Homo sapiens: one gene and its partners. The protein of the gene in region 2 purifies or fractionates together with the protein of the main gene of each other region. This does not show direct contact. Each region holds a gene or a part of one and is shown on either strand. Other genes may lie near its edges.

Region 1 (7,000 bases), on a different chromosome or scaffold from region 2:
TTAACAGAATATAAAAGGAAAAAACCCACAAGGTTATCTCAGTAGATGCAAAATAAGCATTTGACAAAACCCAATACTCTCTTTCATGGTAAAAACACTAAACAAAGCAGGAATTTCTAGAAATTAGGCACTTCCTCAACCTGATGAGAACAAAAAACCCCCAGCTAACATCATAATGGTGAAAGACTGAAAGCTTCTCTATAAAGATCAGAAAGACGACAGGAATGTTCACTGTTGCATTTTTTTTTTTGAGATAGAGTCTCACTCTGTCTGTCGCCCAGGCTGGAGTGCAGTGGTGCGATCTTGGCTCACTGCAACCTCCGCCTCCTGGGTTCAAGCGATTCTCCTGCCTCAGCCTCCTGAGTAGCTCGGATTACAGGCACACAACACCACGCCCAGCTTTTTTTTTTTTTTTTGTATTTTTAGTAGGGAAGGGGTTTCACCATTTTGGCCAGGCTGGTCTGGAACTCCTGACCTCAAGTGACCCGCCCACCTTGGCCTCCCAAAGTGCTGGGATTACAGGTGTGAGCCACCGCACTGGCCACAGTGGTGATAATTTTACAACACTGTAAATAAGCTAAAAATCATTAAATTGTAGTATTGCTATAAAATGACTAAAATGGTAAATTTATGTTATGTGAATTTTATCTCAACAACAATTTTACCTACAAAATTGTGAGGGGGCCAGGCACAGTGGCTCACGCCTGTAATCCCAGCATTTTGGGAGGCTGAGGCAGGCGGATCACTTGAGGTCAGGAGTTCTAGACCAGCCTGGCCAACATGACAGAACCCTGTCTCCACTAAAAATACCAAAATAATTCGCTGGGTGTGATGGTGCACACCTGTAATCCCAGCTACTCAGGAGGCTGGGGCAGGAGAATTGCTTGAAACCAGGAGGCAAAGGTTGCAGTGAGCTGAGATTCTGCCATTGCACTCCAGCCTGGGTGACAGAACAAGACTGTCTCAAAAAGGAAAAAAAAAAAAAAAAAAAAAAGGCGAAAAACACAAAAATCAGCATAGTGTTTATCTCTAAAGGAGACAGAAATGTGATGGGATCATGAAGTTACTGATAGTGCTCTTTTTCTTAAATTGAGTAGAAAATACCTAAGTGTTTATAGTTTTTCTTTATATCTCACATATTAAAAATATTTAATAAAATAACAAGAATGTCAAATGAGACTGCAGTTTTTGTTTTTTCTTTTAAAAGTCTGGTAGAGCTATTTGGCTCTAAGACTATATACAAGTAAAACTTTGATAAAAATGAAAATTAAAAAATAAAAATGGGAGGCTGAGGTAGGGGGATCATTTGAAGTCAGGAGTTTGAGACCAGCCTGGGCAACATAGTGAGACCCTATCTCTTAAAAAAAAAATTAGCCAGGCATGGTGGTGCACGCCTATAGTCTTGGTTACTTGGGAGGCTGAGGTGGGAGGATTGTATGAGCCCAGGAGTTTAAGGCTGTAGTGAGCTACGATAGCACCACAGAACTCCAGCATGGACGACAGAGTGAGATCCCATCTCTATAAAATTAGAGATGAGAGAGTGATGAAAAGGAAGCAGTCAGAGTAGTGACTAAGAATTCTGGTTCTAAAGACAAGTGAAAAGAGAAGGTGGTAGCTATATGGAGAGTAAATCAGAGTGGGTTTTTTTTTTTTTTTTTTAATTTTAGGATTCCCTCTCCCAACAAATCTTCAAGTATGTTTACTGTTGATAGGAAAAGAACAAATAAAGAGAAAGGTTGCCAATACAGGAAAGAAGTGGAAGGTCTTTGATAAGACAGGGAGAGTTAGGATCCAGAATTCAGATGTATGTACAAATTATCATTTAACAGATGGTGAAACAAAAGAGAAATATTGAAGTATGAGAGCAGGTGAACCCTCGTTTGATGTAGGATAGTATACGTAGATGAAGGCATTACTACCTGATGGTCCAAATTCTCTTTCTTAACTAAAAACATACGGGAAGGCAGAGATACGACAAGGGTAGTTAAGGAAAGATGAAGGCTGAGTACCAATGTTTGAGAATGACAGCTGAGAGGACTAAGAGGGACATGACACATGAGAGGATTAATTGGCAGCTCTGAGGGCCCAGTGAGGTTGGCAGAAAGGGTATAGAAATAAAGAATGCAAGTAATGCATTTTGTACTAACGGGACAGGCTTTTGGTGAGTATGTATGACAAAAGGACTAGGAGGAAAGGGAGTTGGAATCAAAGTGCTGTGAGAGGTAAACATGAGTGTGTGGTGCTAGAGGGGAAAAGTACAAATTAAGGAGGAGCTAAGTTACTAAAGCTTCCAAAGTCATGTGAAGTTGAAGAAAAAATATAGGAGAATAAAGGAGTGACAGCAGGAAGGAAAAAAGACCATGGTCAGATAATAGGACATTTAAGATTTTAGAAACAGTGTAGTTCAGAGTTGACAGGGTTTCGGAGTAAATATTTTGATCAATAAGATGGGGAAAGTAATTCTTGCTCTTGCCCAGGCTGGAGTGCAGTGGTGTGATCATAGGTCACTGCTGTCTTCAACTCCTGGGCCCAAGTGATCCTCCCAATTCAGCTTCTCTAAGTAGCTGGGATTTATAGGCATGCACCACCAACACCTAGCTATTTTTTTTCTTTTTTCTTTTTGTAGAGACAGATTCTTGCTACATTGCCCAGACTGCTCTCAAACTCCTGGGCTCAAGCAATCCTCCCAAAGCACAGCCGTGATCCACCGCACCCAGCCGAGAAATAATTCTATTACCAGGGAGAGAGCATCTCAAGATACTATGTATAATCTTATGAGGCTGTGAATTACTGAGGTATTTCATTTATTTTTCACTCGACAGTGTAACTTTTACTTGAAAAATAAAAATGTATTCTTTATAATGTTTATATTTCAGACAGTACATAAAATGAATCTGGCTTTTCTCACTATTTCAAAATATTTATTCATTCAACTAATATTTATTGAGTACTTATGCACCACACACTGTGCTGGATGCAGGATATATACTGGCAGACAAATAGACATACTCTCTCTCCTCAATGCCCTTTCTGACTAGTACAGAAAGCAGAATATAAATTAGTGAATAAAAATTTATAATTACAAATTGTAAGAGAGGTTGTTGCAAGAGAATAAGGCAGAGTGGTTAATTATTTAAATGAGTTGATTAGGGAAGATCTATAATGAGGTAATATTTAAGCTAAAACCCAAAGGAGAAAATTTAACCAAGTGAAAGATGATGAAACATGGTGTCATGACCACTCTTGTGCCTAGAGAAAGAATGTAGCCAGAAAAAGAGGGCCCAGGTCTGAAGCTGAGGAACTCCAATATCTGAAGTTCAGGCAGAATAAACAGCAGCCAACAAAGGAATCTACATAGAAGCAGCAAGACAGATAAGAAGCAACTAATCTAGGAAAGTATAAATTCTTCAAAACCAAGAGTAATGAAAATGTTTTAAAGAAGAAAGAGTATGCCAGGCGCAGTGGCTCACGCCTGTAATCCCCACACTTTGGGAGGCCGAGGTGGGCAGATCACGTGAGGTAAGGAGTTCGAGACCAGCCTGGCCAACATGGTGAAACCCCATCTCTACCAAAAATTCAAAAAAATTAGCTGGCCGTGGTGGCTCATACCTGTAGTCCCAGCTACTCGGAGGCTAAGGCACGAGAATCACTTGAACCCGGGAGCAGTGAGCTTAGATCACACCACTGTACTCCAGCCTGGGCAACAGAGTGAGACTCAGTCTTTAAAAAAAATAATAATATTAATAATAATAATAAAATAAATAAATAAATAAATGATTTATTGGATTTAGCAAATAGAAGTGTTTGGTGGCCTTGAATAAAGTGGTTTGGTGAAAACTGCTAAAGTCAGTATAAATAGGCTGAAGAGTGAATAAAGAGAGAGGAAAGGAGAAGAAAAAGGGGAAAGAAAAAGGGGCAGGAAAAGAAGATGAGTTGGTTATATTATAGTTCTGGATAAAATAAAACACACAAAAATTTAATATATAGCTAAGCTAAGTTCAAAAACAAGAAAGGGGGTCAAGCGCGGTGACTTACGCCTGAAATCCCAGCAAACTGGGAAGCCGTGGCAGGCAGATCACCTGAGGCAAGGAGTTCAAGACCAGCCTGGCCAACATGGTGAAACCCCATCTCTACTAAAAACACAAAAATTAGGCTTGGCGTGGTGGCTCACGCCTGTAATCCCAGCACTTTGGGAGGCCGAGGCGGGTGGATCACAAGGTCAGGAGTTCGAGACCAGCCTGACCAACATGGTGAAACCCCGTCTCTACTGAGTGTTGGGGTTACAAGTGTGAGCCACTGTGTCTGGCCTCTGCAAGTGTTGGGGTTACAAGTGTGAGCCATTGTGTCTGGCCTCAAAGGACTTTTAACAATTTTTACTGCTACCACTACTTGAATACCTACTATGTAACAGGCATTGTGTTTTCAAACACTAATTCATGTAATCTTTCTAACACACTTTAGAAGTAGGTATTATTATCTCTATAGTTTATACAGAGCCAATAAATAGGAATGTAATAGAAATCTGAGATCTACTACTAATTACCACCAAATGTCAAACAAATGCTGTTAGCAACAGTGATGATTTTCAACAAAATTTGAGTTCTTTCTTATTCAGTGAGCACCTCCCCATCTCCCAATGAATAGCTTTGTTTAAATACCTTGTACTTTTGTCTCAGCTCTTCTGTGTCTTCTTTTTCTACTTCTAGGACACGGCGCCGTTCGGTAGCATCTTCAGCATAATCAAGCTTGACAAAAATAGATATGATTAGATTTAATTCCTAAAGTACCCCCAAGATTAGCTATGAAAAAGTTATTTGCACAACTACAGTATTATCTGAAAACAAAAAAAAATTGTAATTTTGCTTAGCTACTGCTTGCTTTATTGTCACCTCACAGAGAAAATCACATGCAAAATAGTTTGTTACTTTCAGGCTGGTAGTTTCCAAAAGGCACATTTGTTGAAAGTAGACTTCACTTCAATGTTAATTTTCTTTTCTTTCTTTCCTTTTTTTTTTTTTTTTTTTGAGATGGAGTTTCACTCTTGTTGCTCAGGCTGGGGTTTAATGGCATGATCTCCGCTCACTGCAACCTCTGCCTCCCGAGTTCAAGTGATTCTCCTGCCTCAGCCTCCTGAGTAGCTGGGATTACAGGTGCCCGCCACAATGCCCTGCTAATTTTTTTTGTATTTTCAGTAGAGATGGAGTTTCATCATGTTGGCCAGGCTGATCTTGAACTCCTCACCTCAGGTGATCTGCTTGTCTCGGCCTCCCACAGTGCTGGGATTACAGGCGTGAGCCACTGCGCCCAGCGACTCCTAATTCTTTGAAAATTGAGGCTGGGCACAGTGGCTCACACCTGTAATCCCAGCACTGTGGGAGGCCGAGGCGGGCGGGTCACCTGAGGTCAAGAGTTCAAGACCAGCCTGACCAATATGATGAAACCCTGTTTCTACTAAAAACACAAAAATTACCCGGGCATGGTGTCATGCGCCTGTAATCCCAGCTACTTAGAAGGCTGAGACAGGAGACAGGAGAATCCCTTGAACCCGGGAGACGGAGGTTGCAGTGAGCCGAGACTGCGCCATTGCACTCTAGCCTGGGCAACAAGAGCGAAACTCCATCTCAAAAAAAAAAAAAAAAAAAAAAAAAGGAATTAGGAGTCAATGAAGAAAATATTTTAGGCAATGAAAAGCAGGTATTACAGGTGACAGCCGTACCCAATTCTACAAAGGCAAAGCTTTTATCACAGCAACATTTTAAGAGCTGAGCAACACTGCCTACTGAAGCAAGTACCAAGGTCTGGATCTAAGTCTGATATTGCCTTGCTGTATAACCCTCGGCAAATCACTTAACTTCTTTATGTGCCAGTTAAAACAGCAGCTCTGTTTATATTCTATTTGTCTCAAAAGTAGCACTAAATGAAAATGTAAAATATATTTTTTAGTCATCCAAAGAAAAATATTAAAACTACATTTCATCTGATAAATGTATTCTTGCACAGACATCTGAATTTGGAATTAGTATTATTTCAAAATATCTCACAAAACTTATGAGTTAATGAGATCAATTTACCTCCATTTCCATGCGACCCATGCCCATGACATCATACTTGACAACGATTGGAATGGGATCTGTTCTCCCTGTAACAGGAACACATAATCAAGGTAAGGTGCAAAGCCAAACCAACAGCTCATTTTACACATTGGGTTTTGGGTGGTTAGAGATCTTGCCTTGGAGTGCAGAGACCAGAAAGCTACAGTGAACCAAACACAAGCCATTCTCACAGCTTACACTCAAGACCTTCCTTTCCTAGTTTAAACCCAATTAACCACCTTGGCTGACGTCCAGTTGGGATTAATTTCAAATTACTATGGCAAAATTACATTAATAAGTAATGCAAAGCACTTTTAAGCAATGGCATCAGGAGGTTTAAATTGTAAAACTTTAAAAATTCCTTTTAAGATCCCCAAATAACTTCCCATCAAGTATCACTTTACTCTGCCCACTGATATCCTCCTACACAACTTTTTAACCTAGTTTAAAAAAAAAAATCTCAACTGGCATGGTTAAATAGAAAAAGTACATTTTTAAACATGATGCAGTAAAACTTTATAATTACAACTCAGTATGTTGAATTTGTTTTCAAAAGATGCTTTACAATTTTTTTTGATGTTCCTCATAGACTAGGAGATGCTTTACAATTTAATGGGGCTGTGAAAAGTTTAAATAAAAAGAAACAATTAGTTGCCCTTAGAGAAAAGAATAGTTTTCCTTTTAATCTGGTGCTCTAAAGTCCCATTTCCTAGAGTGGATTTAACACTGGCTGCGAGGGTAACTGGTAAGCTGTGAAAAGGACTAGTTGCGAAGAAAATTGACTTTAAACTAATTGATCTATGCTGGATAATTTTTTTAATAAATATATATTTAATCCACTCATAACCAGCCAAACAAAGCAAAATGGGGCAGACAAGCACTTTACTACCACAGCTGTTTTACATCAC
Region 2 (7,818 bases):
CACGGGGCCTGCTATGAACTGGTGTCCACCATGGATGCTCTGCCAGTTCGGTCGCCAGTGCTCTGCTGCCACTCACTGGGACCCTTCCAGGACATGGCGGCCGTGGTGATTGATACAGGCACAGGATTCACCAAATGTGGACTGGCGGGAGAGGACCATGTCCTCAGTGTCATACCCTCACGAGTTCAGCTGCTGCAGCACCCAGCCCAGGGCCAGCCACGATATGCAGTGCCTGAAAACCAAGTGGGATCCTATTCAGTGCTGAACCGTGGTGTGGTCTATGACTGGGATGCACTAGAGGTGCTATGGCAGCACCTGTTCTATTGAAGGCTGGGTGTGCAGCCCGAGAAGCTGTCTGTGCTCGTAGCCGACTCGCCCATCTCACCACTCACCAACCGAGAAAAGGTGGCTGAAATACTCTTTGAGCATTTCCATGTCCCAGCCATGCAGACAGTGCATCAGGCCCTGCTGGCGCTCTATGCTTATGGACGTACCACTGGGCTGGTGCTGGGCAGTGGCCATGGCACTTCCTATGTGGCACCCATCCTCACTGGGGATCTGGCCCCACTTGACACCTACCGGCTGGATGTGGCTGGTGCTGACCTTACTGACTACTTGGCCCAGCTGCTGCAGAGAAGTGGCCACTCACTGCCCCAGGCAGGACTGATCAACCAGATGAAAGAGGCCTGCTGCTACGTGGCCATGGATGTGGCAGCTGAGAGGGCCCACACCCAGGCGCAGGCCGAGGTGGACTTTGTGCTTCCAGACAAGCAGGTTATCACGCTGGGGCCTGAGCGCTTCTGCTGCCCTGAGGCCCTCTTCCAACCCAATCTGATAGGTCTCAACCAGCTGGGCCTTCCACAGCTGGCCCTCCTAAGCATCAGCCGGTTGGAGGCCAAGCAGCAGGAGCAGCTACTGGCCAATGTGGTACTGGACGGTGGCAGCACCCTCATGAGTGGCTTCCCTGAGCGCCTGAGACAGGAGCTGGGCCCTGGTGCCACTGTGCTGGGGTCTCCCCACCGTGCAGTTGCTGCCTGGCTTGGGGGCTCCATCATGGCATCCCGGAGCTCTTTCCAGAGCCTGTGGCTCAGCTGCCAGGAATATGAGGAAGAGGGCCCATGGGCTATCTATAAGTACCAGCTGTGAGCATATAAAAGTTCTGGTTCTGCTTTCTTTAAGCACCGTGGCATGTTTCAGCCACAGGGTGGTGTGGGAAAAGCAGGAGTCCAGGCATGGGGTCATGGATGGGGGCCCTGGCTCTCTCCAAAGGCATGCCCTGCCTCTGCACTCTGGAACTCCATGGGCCCTGGCAACCTACCCTTTCTAGACAGCCCCGGAGCCCCTTGACTGGCATTGGCTCTGATCTGGCCTGACCTTTACTGCACCCCAAGGGCAACCACAGACAGTGGCTGCTGTGGGTTTTGCCCCGTTGCCCTGACGACAAGTGCAATTACCCTTGATTGCCAGCTTGTTGCCATGGCAATTTCAAACATAATGTAATAACCCACACAGCCTGGAGTGAGTCACAAGGTGGGGGGCGGGGGGCAGCCCCCTCCCCTGGCTCCAGAGGAAAAGACTGCTTGCCCTTCCCCATTGTGGGCCCTCTTCTGGGGACTGAAGCCAAGCAACATGGACAACAGTCAGGCAGTTTCAAAGATGGCTGGGGGCCTGGGGTGGGAGGGTTCTGTCAGAGTTCAGGCTTCTTGGGGAGCTGCACTGGTAATCTAGGTACCTCCTAGAGTCTGAACCTTTGCTGGAGCGCTATGCTGGGTTAGCAGGGGCTTCTATCAGCCAGCCAGAATCTAAGGGCATAGGAGTGCCGGCCTTTGGCACCCTAGAGCTGGGAGTTGGGGGCACAGATAAGTCCTGGATCCTGGGTAGGAGGCCCAACCTGAGCTGGGGGATGAAGCTCTGTGGATACTGCGGCTCGCACCTTATTCTGCCCCTCTGACTTTCTAGCTTTGGTGGGAGCCAGAACTACGAACTTGGGCCCTCTTCTCCTCCTCAGCCTCCCAACCCAGGCAGCCCCTGTCTTCAGGGTACAGGCCTCCTTAGGAGGGTCCTCATAAAGGCTACTAGGCAATGCTAATCTGGATTGCCTCTGCTCTTGTTCCAAACTCTGGTCTGTGCTAAAGGGCCTCCTGCCATCACTCTGGCCAGTGGAGTGGTGAGAAATCATGTCCCCTGACCCCGTCTGGCTTTGAATAGTGGAAGTAAGAACAAAGCTCAGCATTGGTCCCGTCCCTGCCCTGGAAGAGCTAAGAGGATGGCATTCAGCTGATGTTACTATCTCCTGCCTGAAAGGCAGCTGGAGGTTGAAGCCAAAACATTGAAGCCGGTCCTACCCTGCCTGTGCCTTCCTGTCTAGGGGCTGAGGGATAAGCCATGGCTCAATCCTAGCCCTGGGTTCTTGTCTTCAGATTGCCCTCCACAAATGGCAAAGACTTGTCTATCTTCACATACACCAGAGATCAAGGGGCTGCTCTGGTGGGGAGCCTGAAAACAGCCAATGATGTAGGGTCAGCACAGACCCTGCCCACTGCTGGACATGGTCCAGCCCCCTTCCCATGTCCAGCTCTCAAAGCCTGATTCAGCCTCCACAATCCTGAGACTTGTGTCAGGCAGGAAGGGGACTGATAACTCCAGGGACCAGCTACAGCGTCCACACACACGTGCCAGCAAGCATGCCTGGGTGCACAAAGAATGCAGACACACGTGCCCCTGGGCACCACTGCATACACTGTGCTGTTGCATCTCCCTCGGCAAAAGAGAGCATACACAACACGTACACGTGTGCACACACACCCTGCCACGTGCTCTCACCCACATGCACAGAGCGTGCTTAGGACCAAGAAGAGGTGGAGTACTGCCAGCAGCAGGCAGGGCGCTAAGGAGCCACCCCTTCCCCTGCCTAAAAATCCCCATTCCAGCTTCTCATTGACCCCCATGCCTGGATAGCCATGACCCTCAGGAAAGACAGAAAACATGTATGTGGCATGTGTGGGGTCAGCAAGCTACAGCTTGGCTACACCATAAAACTCAGAGACCCATTGTTTCAAGAATAGTGGGCAGATGGCAGGAAGGACTCAGTGCCAGGCCATTCATTCATTCTGCAGACATCAGCCGAGCATACTGAGATGAGAAACGGGTTCTGCCTTGCAGATACCCAGCCTGCCAGGAGATTCCTACCCAGTGGTGGGGTGGGTCCCATAACCCGAGACCACTCAGAGCCCAGGGACCCCAGAAGTGGCACCAGCCTGGCCTAGAGGAGGTAACACCAAGCCAGGGAGGAAGGTGAAGGGCTCAGTACCCCCTCTGGAGGAAAATTTTGAGGAACCTTGTTTGAGGCGGTCATTTCCTAAGCTAGCCTTCAGTCTGAGCCCCAGCCCCAGCTTCTGGACTTGGACAGTCCCTCCTGTCATCAGCCATGGGTGGCCAGGGCAGCCTCAAGATGGCTGAGGGTTTGGGGATGACCCCAACTCCCTCTCCCACAGCAGGGTCAGGAGGCTCACTGGGAGGAGTGAGGTGGGATAAAACCCAGCTCCAGACACTGAGAGGCCTGAGTCTGGTCTTCAGATACTGGCCTTAGGATGGTCCTCAGGGCTTGTGAGGGGTGTGGGTCAGGCTTTGGGTCCGTGAGCCTCACTGACAAGGGACAGAGAAATGGCCAAGGACTTCCTTTAAAGCTTCCTCCTGGTGGTTCTGAGCCTCCTCCCTCTGATTAGCACCCAGGCCAGGTGGGATACCTTGGTGCCACAGTTCTCCTGTGTCCCCATATCCCAGGCCAGGCCACTAGAGTGATACAACTCATGAAGTGTTTGACAGTGATTAGACTGAAAAGAAAGCAGAGGCCACACCATGTCACAGGTGACTTTTATAGTTTGGGAAATTTGGTGCCACACAGGAAGGGGCTGACTGTGCTGCCACCCTTGCTGGTACTTATGTTTGGGAAAGACTCTGGCCTTGCAGGAGTTGGGGATGGGGTGGGATAGGAGACTTTGCTACTACAGTCTAGGGCCCTCACTGTTTTCACACTGACTACCTGCAAACACACACCTCTGTGTGTTTACTGCTCCTAGCTAGGGGATGCGTAGCTAGGGGATGCTAGGGGATGCCACACTGACTACCTGCAAACACACACCTCTGTGTGTTTACTGCTCCTAGCTAGGGGAGCCTGCCCTAGCCCGACTGCCCATCTGGTTTTTCTAAGTTGGTCCTGCCTTTTGGGTCGGGTTCGGGGAGCTGGGCAAAGCCCCGTTCCCTAGAGACTAATGACTGGCAAGCGATCCTATGCAGCTCCAGGACTCAGGCTTTCCCCCAACTCTCCACTCACCACCCCTTACATTGGGCATAGGAGGCCTCCTCCGGCCCCAGGCTGAGGGCCTAAGGGAGCCATTGAGAACCTTGGCCAGGGCTAAGCAGGCCAGTGCTCACCAGCACCGCTGCCATCCCGCGCGCTCCTGCTCTCCAGTGGGATTCTGCCCTTAAGGCTCCGCCAGGGTCGGGGCGGGGCCGGTTGGGAGGCCCCGCCCCCAGCCCGCCCCCGGCCCGGGGTGCGAATCCGGTGCCGGCAAGCGGCTGGCGATGCTGGAGGTTCGCTAGCCGAAGCGGCTGCATCTGGCGCCGCGTCTGCCCCGCGTGCTCGGAGCGGATTCTGCCCGCCGTCCCCGGAGCCCTCGGCGCCCCGCTGAGCCCGCGATCACTTCCTCCCTGTGACCAACCGGCGCTGCAGGTGCGGGGCGGGCCGGGCTGGGGGCGCTTCCCGAACGCAGGTTGTGGGGCCTTGGGGGATTGTTTCCCTGGCTCGAGGTGCGGGATGCAGAGTGCGCGGGGGCGCAGCGAGGGCTCGAGGTCCTGGCGGGGTCAGAGCGCGCGGGCTTTGCAGATTTGGGGGAGGGAGTGCGGGGTCGGGCTAAAGTTCCCCATTACCTCGGACGGCTTGGGGGTTCTGGGGGGAAGCTTCTGCGGCTCGGAATTGTGAAAAGATTAACCCTCGAAGATTCGTGGTCCCCCGTGAGGATAGGGGCCGAGAGCTGAGCCGTCCCTCCCCGTTCCCAGAGCCGCCTCCAGCCCCTCCCAACTGTCCCCGGGCCCCTTCCCTCCCGCTTAGCAGTCACTAATTTCCATGACAACGGAGAGTTCTTTATGGGCGACAACCCGGAGGGGGCTGGGCGGGGCTGCCGCGGGGTGGGGGAGGAAGCTCCAAGCCCCTGGGGACCAGCAGCCCCCCAGCCAAAATTCAGCTTCCAAGCCTTCACCTGGGTGCCAGCTGGGGGTCCAGTGCATGGACCCACGTGCACGGTGGGGGTGGGGGCGCACATGTTCCTGCTGGGAGGTGCGGGGCTTGGTGCTCACACGTGTGCTTTCCGCATGTGTGTTGCTGTGCCAGCGGGGGCGAGCCAGCAGCACTTGGGAAAGGGGTCAGGGTGGCAGCACGGTGGGGAGCAGGGCCCCTGGCTGGAGGTGGCTGGGATAGTGACAGCATGAGCTTCTGCCTTCCCCAGCTTGTACTGTTTGGCAGAGACCCTGGGCTCTTGAGCCCCAGCCCCCTCCCCGCATAGCTCTGCCAAATTGCTTTTGTCCGCACCTCCCAGGCAGATCCTGCTCCACCAGGTTCCTTCCTAAGGATCAGGGCCCTCTGTCCCACACTAAAAGCTCAGAGTCTGCAGTAGTCCAGTCCCTGTGCTGTACTCCCCTTACCCCCAAGTCCAGGCTTTGAGCCCCCAGGACTACCTTTAGAGACCTGGTGCCCTCCCCCACCCTCAGAGTTGATTCCTGGCAGCTCCAGCGACTTCTGAGCCTCAGTTTCCTCAACTGGGGAACTGGTGTCTCCACTCAGAGTCAGGTTGGTTTCCAGGGTGGGGCAAGGGTCTCCCTTTTCTAATATTTGGTGTGGACCCTTCAGGTGCTCTCCTAGGCTGGCTGTTCACATATCTCTGATGGCCCTACTCTCCAGCCCCATGCCCTGGCCACCATTCACAGGCAGGCAAGCAGTCCTCTGCCCTGGGAGAAGGCCAGATTCCATGGTTTCCATTAGGGGAAACTGAGGCATGGGGAGGTGAAGGGCTGTGTGGTTATCCTGTTTCTGGGTTGCTTGTGGTGCCGTTTCTGGCACTCATGGCAGGATCTGCTGTTGGGGGTTGGTGAGAGGGGATTAAGCAGAGCTGTAAGAGGGGCTCTGGGGACCCAAAGCCTGGAAAGGATAGCAGATGGGGGAGGGGTTGGCTGGGAGGGTCTAAGTACAGCTGGGCCAACTGAGAAGAGGGACTATAAAGGGAAGCAGCCAGGCATCCGAGCCTCATTTCCATACCCCTATGCGTCTGCCTTCAACATGTTGGACCTGCTTTACCTAAGCTGCCGTGATGGCAGAGAGACGGGCTGGGAACTGTCCTGACTGGGGGGCTGCAGCAGCTGGCCTCTTCCCCACCAACATGCTCCAAGGAGCTGGCCTCCTTTTGGCTGTGCCTCCTACACCAAGTTCAGTGTATGTTTGGGGGATACAGGAGGGTGCAGTCTCGAAGGTCCCAGTACCATGGATAGCTCCTGGCCCAGGGATTTAGAGCACATCGCCATGGAGGCCTTAGGGCTCTGCTGGGCACCCATCCGCCCCCTTCAGAACTCCCGTCCACCTCCCCTTTCCTGCCCTTTGTGCCTGTGTCCCTTTTACTTTGTCATCTCCTTGCTCCTCTTCCATCACAGGTTCTGTCTTTGTCTGTGTCTCTGCCCCATTCTCTTTTTTCTAAATTCTCTCCATCTCCCCACCTCCCCTTTCTTGATGGGGACCTGGGTCACAGAACCTTGAAGAAGCAGCCAGGCTAAGGTCTCAGGAAATTCTTGAAGAAGGGACCTGACCAACACATCTCCCCTCCCCCTCCCCTTGTTTTAAAACTTCCATCACCATAGCAACCCTTTACTCTAGTGCCTTCCTCTGCATTTCCCCTCCTCCACCCACAGGGAAGCAGAGCCTCCAGTGGATTCTCCTTCAGGGGTTCAGAGATTTGGACCCCAAGTGCTTGGGAGGAGACAGCTGGCCTTTGGCTTTGCCTGCATGTTGACAGCTAAACTTTCGGGATGTAGCACTGGACTGCATGCCCACCCCCAAAACTGGAGAGACCTCCCCACAATACTCCCTCATTAGATGGGCAAAATTCAGCTGTAGGAACTTCTACCATGATTTAGCTCGAGCCGGAGGCTCAGTCAGGGCAGCCCCTTGACCGGTCCCCTGAAGCAATTGGATGGTGGTCTAGAAGCTTGGCCCTTGTTCTTAACAGACCTTGAGGGAGGTCTTCAGCTCCCCTGGTCCTGTGGGTGACACCTCAGCTGTGAGTTAAGCAGGGCTTGGGCTTCAGCATGTTCATTGCAGCAGGAAACCCAGCCCCAGCCCTTGAGAGAGTAGAGCAGCAGAGAGGAGGGGGTGCCTGCAGGCTGGTGTTCACAGCTGCCACTAAATTAGGAGGTGTTGCCTACAGTTGTTGGGAGGCAGCTGGAGGCCTCTTGGGCCCCTCCTGGCCTCCCTAGATTTACTGCAAGCTCTGGAGCCCCACGTGGCAGGGGACCAAGGTAGCAGGAAACTCTGTTTATGTCTATGAAAGGTAGGGCCTGAACCAGGATGATCTCAGCGGAGGAGGGGACAGGACCCCAATGTGGGGCCTCCGGACCTCTTGGCCTTTGTCCCGTTTGGGCTTTCCCTGGGCCAGACTTACCTAAAGATGCAGCAGAGTCCCTGGGGGACCATTTATCACCAGGGCACCAACAGAGGACCCCTCAGGATTGCTGGAGGCTCAATTCCCTGAGTCCAGTGGTCAGGCCCTGGGAGCA
Region 3 (3,759 bases), on a different chromosome or scaffold from region 2:
GGCTACATGGTATAGCCTTTTGCTCCTAGGCTACAAATACTATATTGAAAACTGTAGGCAACTGTAATATCATGGTTTTGTGTATTTAAACACAGAAAAGGTACAGTAAAAATACATTATAATCTTATGGGACCACTGTTGTACATGTGGCCCGTCATTGACTGAAACGTCGTTATGTGGTGTATGTCTGTACTCAGTACATTTTAGAAACTTCAGTAAATCAAAATACATTTAAATTTATGTAGGAGAAGAAAAACTCAGTTTAGATGTAAAGATTTCTGTAAGGCAACACTACAGAGACTGGAAACCTAATACAACTCCTATGTAAAAATTCCCAAATACAGTAAAAAATTCTTTACTATTACCTTTCATGTGTTTAAGGAAACAAAAAACTCAGGACACTTAAAAATAGACTGCGAAATTTACCTACTTGGTATTACACCACTAGAAACAGATGCTAAAAAGGTAATTTTATAGTGGCAGAAAACATATACACTAACGAGATTCCACACCAATTTTTATTTATATTTTGGGGCCTGAAACAAATCTTATAATCACCTCTTTCAAATTACATTTTATTCCCTTAATGGTGTGGTTTACCCCCACTCCACAAAAACAATTATGACTAATACACTAGAAATATTTTTTAATAGAACCTCTTAAACAAGACATTTTCATTAACCAATCCAGACCAAGGATTGTCTCAAAAATTTGATCTGTTAATTTTCTGGTGGTATTATTTTAGAAAAGATTTCATAACCAAATTATACATCTAATTAACTTATGTGTAAGTTTTTGCATTCACATCCTAAATCATGGAAACCCTACCTTATAAAACCTTACCACTCAAGGTAAATAAATACTATATCACATGTCAAGAAAATAAAGAATTCTCTAAATCTGCCACTAAAAGTCTGAAAAACCCAAATATCAAATTATAACACTGGTTTATGTACTAATAATCACAAATATCATGACGGCTTTTAAAAAAACTACAGACTTAACTGATAAGCTTGCAAATTACGGCAGAGTAAATAAAACTGTCAAATACTACTTTTGGCTCTAGTTCATAACTTGCCCAAAAATGTGCATATCATAGCCAACAGAATTTTTCTGTAGAATTTTATTTTGAAAATATTTCACTTCAAGATTGATCTAAAAAACATTTTAAGATATGAAAATGTTATACAACTTATCTATTACAAATTAATCAGATAATTCTGCAATTAGGTACACTGTGTTAGCTCGCCTACATAAAAAATATTGCACATTTTATTTTGTCTCCAGATGTGATCGATGTCTAAACTATATAGAATTTCAAACTATTTTAAAGTTATTCTGTGAAATGTCATCTTTATAAATATCAGAACTAAATGCACTGTAAACAGCCATTTTGGTAAACATGCATTTATTCACAGTTGATTTATTTCCTTTAGATAAATGTGTAACTGCTCAAAATTATATAATAATCTATGTAGAGGTACAAGAGCACACTATACAAATCTATTTCTATCTTCATGTTGAGGAAACACTGATCTTGGCAAAAATCTGGCATGATTTTTAAAATGAACTATTGCTGGTAAGAAGGCATACTTTAAAACTTTTCTGTGGCCTGCACCTGTTTTCTTTTTAAATTAAAATGTAAAAGCATTTGTTTTCAGAGATTCATTTATCACTGAGTAAGTGATTACATAAAAAAATGGACCCTAAAGCAACTGAGTTAAAATGCTTTGAGAGCCCCATTCTACTTGTAAGTTATCAATGCCTTAAACTGTTAGACCACTCACTAATCATAATTTTAAGAAACGGACAAAATCAGACAATTTTAATGTCAGGAAATTGACACAAACCTGCATAATACAGCATTCCTCCATTGATTTGAGGTCATATTATACTTTAAAAATATAAATAAATATATTGAATCATGAGTCTTATTTCTATAACCCCAAAAAGTGTTTCAAAATGCTTCTAAAACAGAAGTGGGTGACTGTAGAATATAGTTCCAGACTTGACTATTACTGTCAAACACAATCGTTCCTTACAAATAACTCTACTGGTGCACTGGCTTGATTGATTCCAGCAATTTCATTTTACAGGAGTGAACCACACGTTATACACACAGAGAATATATTACTTGAAAATCCCCAAAATAGGAAGAAAAGTTTAGAAAGTTGTCAAATACTTCCAAATGAAAAGTAAAGGTCTATTTCTAGCCCTCTTTCATACCCTTAAAGTTGGAATCTGGCAAAAGTCCATGGGTACAATTTACAAACTTTGACAAACTATTAAGTAAAAACCATTTTCTTTGGGGGAGGTGAGAGAAGGTACCTTTAAAACCTGTTATACAAAATTCCAGCTGCCTTTTTATAAAAGTACGTTCCTTAGATTAAAACCATAAAATTAAGGTGCAAGAGTTTAACAAAAATGAACTAAAGAGCTTTATTGACATCACAGTACATTCAAGAATAATTTTAAGAACATTACAGCTGAAAGAGAATGGCATGTTTATAGTCTTATTATGCACTATATTTTTTGAAAAAAACGTAATACAAAGAAATCCTATTAAGTAACTTGGAGCAGCATTGGAAAAAGTACACCTATTTACAGATTAAAAAAAAAAAAGATTCTGGTTTCACCTACACAGCCACAATGTGCCTCTATAATGAGACAAGCCCTTAAAACTCATGGAATTTTTTTAAAGAACATCATGGCATTCTTGCCACATCATTCCTCAGCGTTTACGACGGGGAGGGGTTGTTGATCTGAAAAAAAAGGGAAAAGACAAAATTTAAAAATAAAAATGTATTTTAAATTAAAAATCTGCAATTTTAAATAAATAATATTATATAGGATTTCTAACATTTAAGACTATGATTATTTATCAAGTACCAAACTGAGTTTATTAAAGAGAGAGAGAAAGGACACTTTCAACTTTGAATAAATTCAGTCAATTTTTTTTAAAAATCAGACAAAATACTTTAAAAAGTATACTACCTTGATCGGGACTTAGACTTGTGTTTGCGGCTTGCCTTCTTACCAGACCTTTGAGATTTCTCCACGGATCGCGATCGACTATGTTTAGGCTTCTTAGCCTTCTTTTCTTTGCTACTTCCTGGAGACTCAGAACTGCTCCTTCCACTAGAATCAGAGCCTGAATGTTTTTTACTATCTTTGGTAGTACTTTTCTTACTATCCTGTCTAGAATCATGTCTTATGATTTTAACAGATATAGAACCACTCCTAGAAAATGTTCTTTCACTTTCTCGTTTCCTTTTTAATCTATCATCCTGACTACTGAACTTAAAATCTTTTTCTTCCCTTTTTTGTTTCTCTTTTCTTTTATCCTGTTCACGTTCCCTTTCTTTGTCTTTCTTTTTCCTATCTTTATCTATACTTCGACTCCTCTCCTTTTTCCTCTCTTGTTCTTTAGCCTCACCTTTATGCTTATGACTGTTCCCACTAAGATTTCCACGTTGATCATCAATTTTACGCCTATCTCGACTCCTACTGCGACTGGCACGATTGGTTCGTCTATCCCTTGAGCGACTTCTACTTCTACGTCTCTCTCGGGAAGGACTCCGATTTCGTCGTCTTTCTCTTTCAATGCTATTTCTATTAGATCTCCTTCTATCTCTAATCTTTACCCTAGCCCTATTGCTCTCTATTTTAATTCTGCGAGAATAGCTTCTACTCCTGCTACGTCTAGCTTTGATTGTTGGAGATCTACTCCTACTGTGTCTCTTTTTCCTTTTAGGAGAA

The links. Proteins that work in one complex are often made in the same cells at the same time.
Region 1: the proteins of CAMKV (region 2) and GPATCH8 purify together in Homo sapiens (affinity purification with mass spectrometry; 4 studies listed by BioGRID and IntAct, with this or other methods). This does not show direct contact.
Region 3: the proteins of CAMKV (region 2) and PNISR purify together in Homo sapiens (affinity purification with mass spectrometry; 4 studies listed by BioGRID and IntAct, with this or other methods). This does not show direct contact.

What each region holds. Positions count from the first base shown.
Region 1 is NC_000017.11:44,430,407-44,437,406, forward strand, and holds part of GPATCH8 (G patch domain-containing protein 8), read right to left. Parts: exon of another isoform or gene 6,140-7,000; coding exon 6,072-6,139; intron 4,746-6,071; coding exon 4,659-4,745; intron 1-4,658.
Region 2 is NC_000003.12:49,866,672-49,874,489, reverse strand, and holds the start of CAMKV (caM kinase-like vesicle-associated protein), read left to right. Parts: upstream 1-4,583; 5' UTR 4,584-4,732; intron 4,733-7,818. UniProt on the Homo sapiens protein: Does not appear to have detectable kinase activity.
Region 3 is NC_000006.12:99,397,550-99,401,308, forward strand, and holds the end of PNISR (arginine/serine-rich protein PNISR), read right to left. Parts: coding exon 2,991-3,759; 3' UTR 2,763-2,990; coding exon of another isoform or gene 2,725-2,762; 3' UTR 501-2,724; downstream 1-500.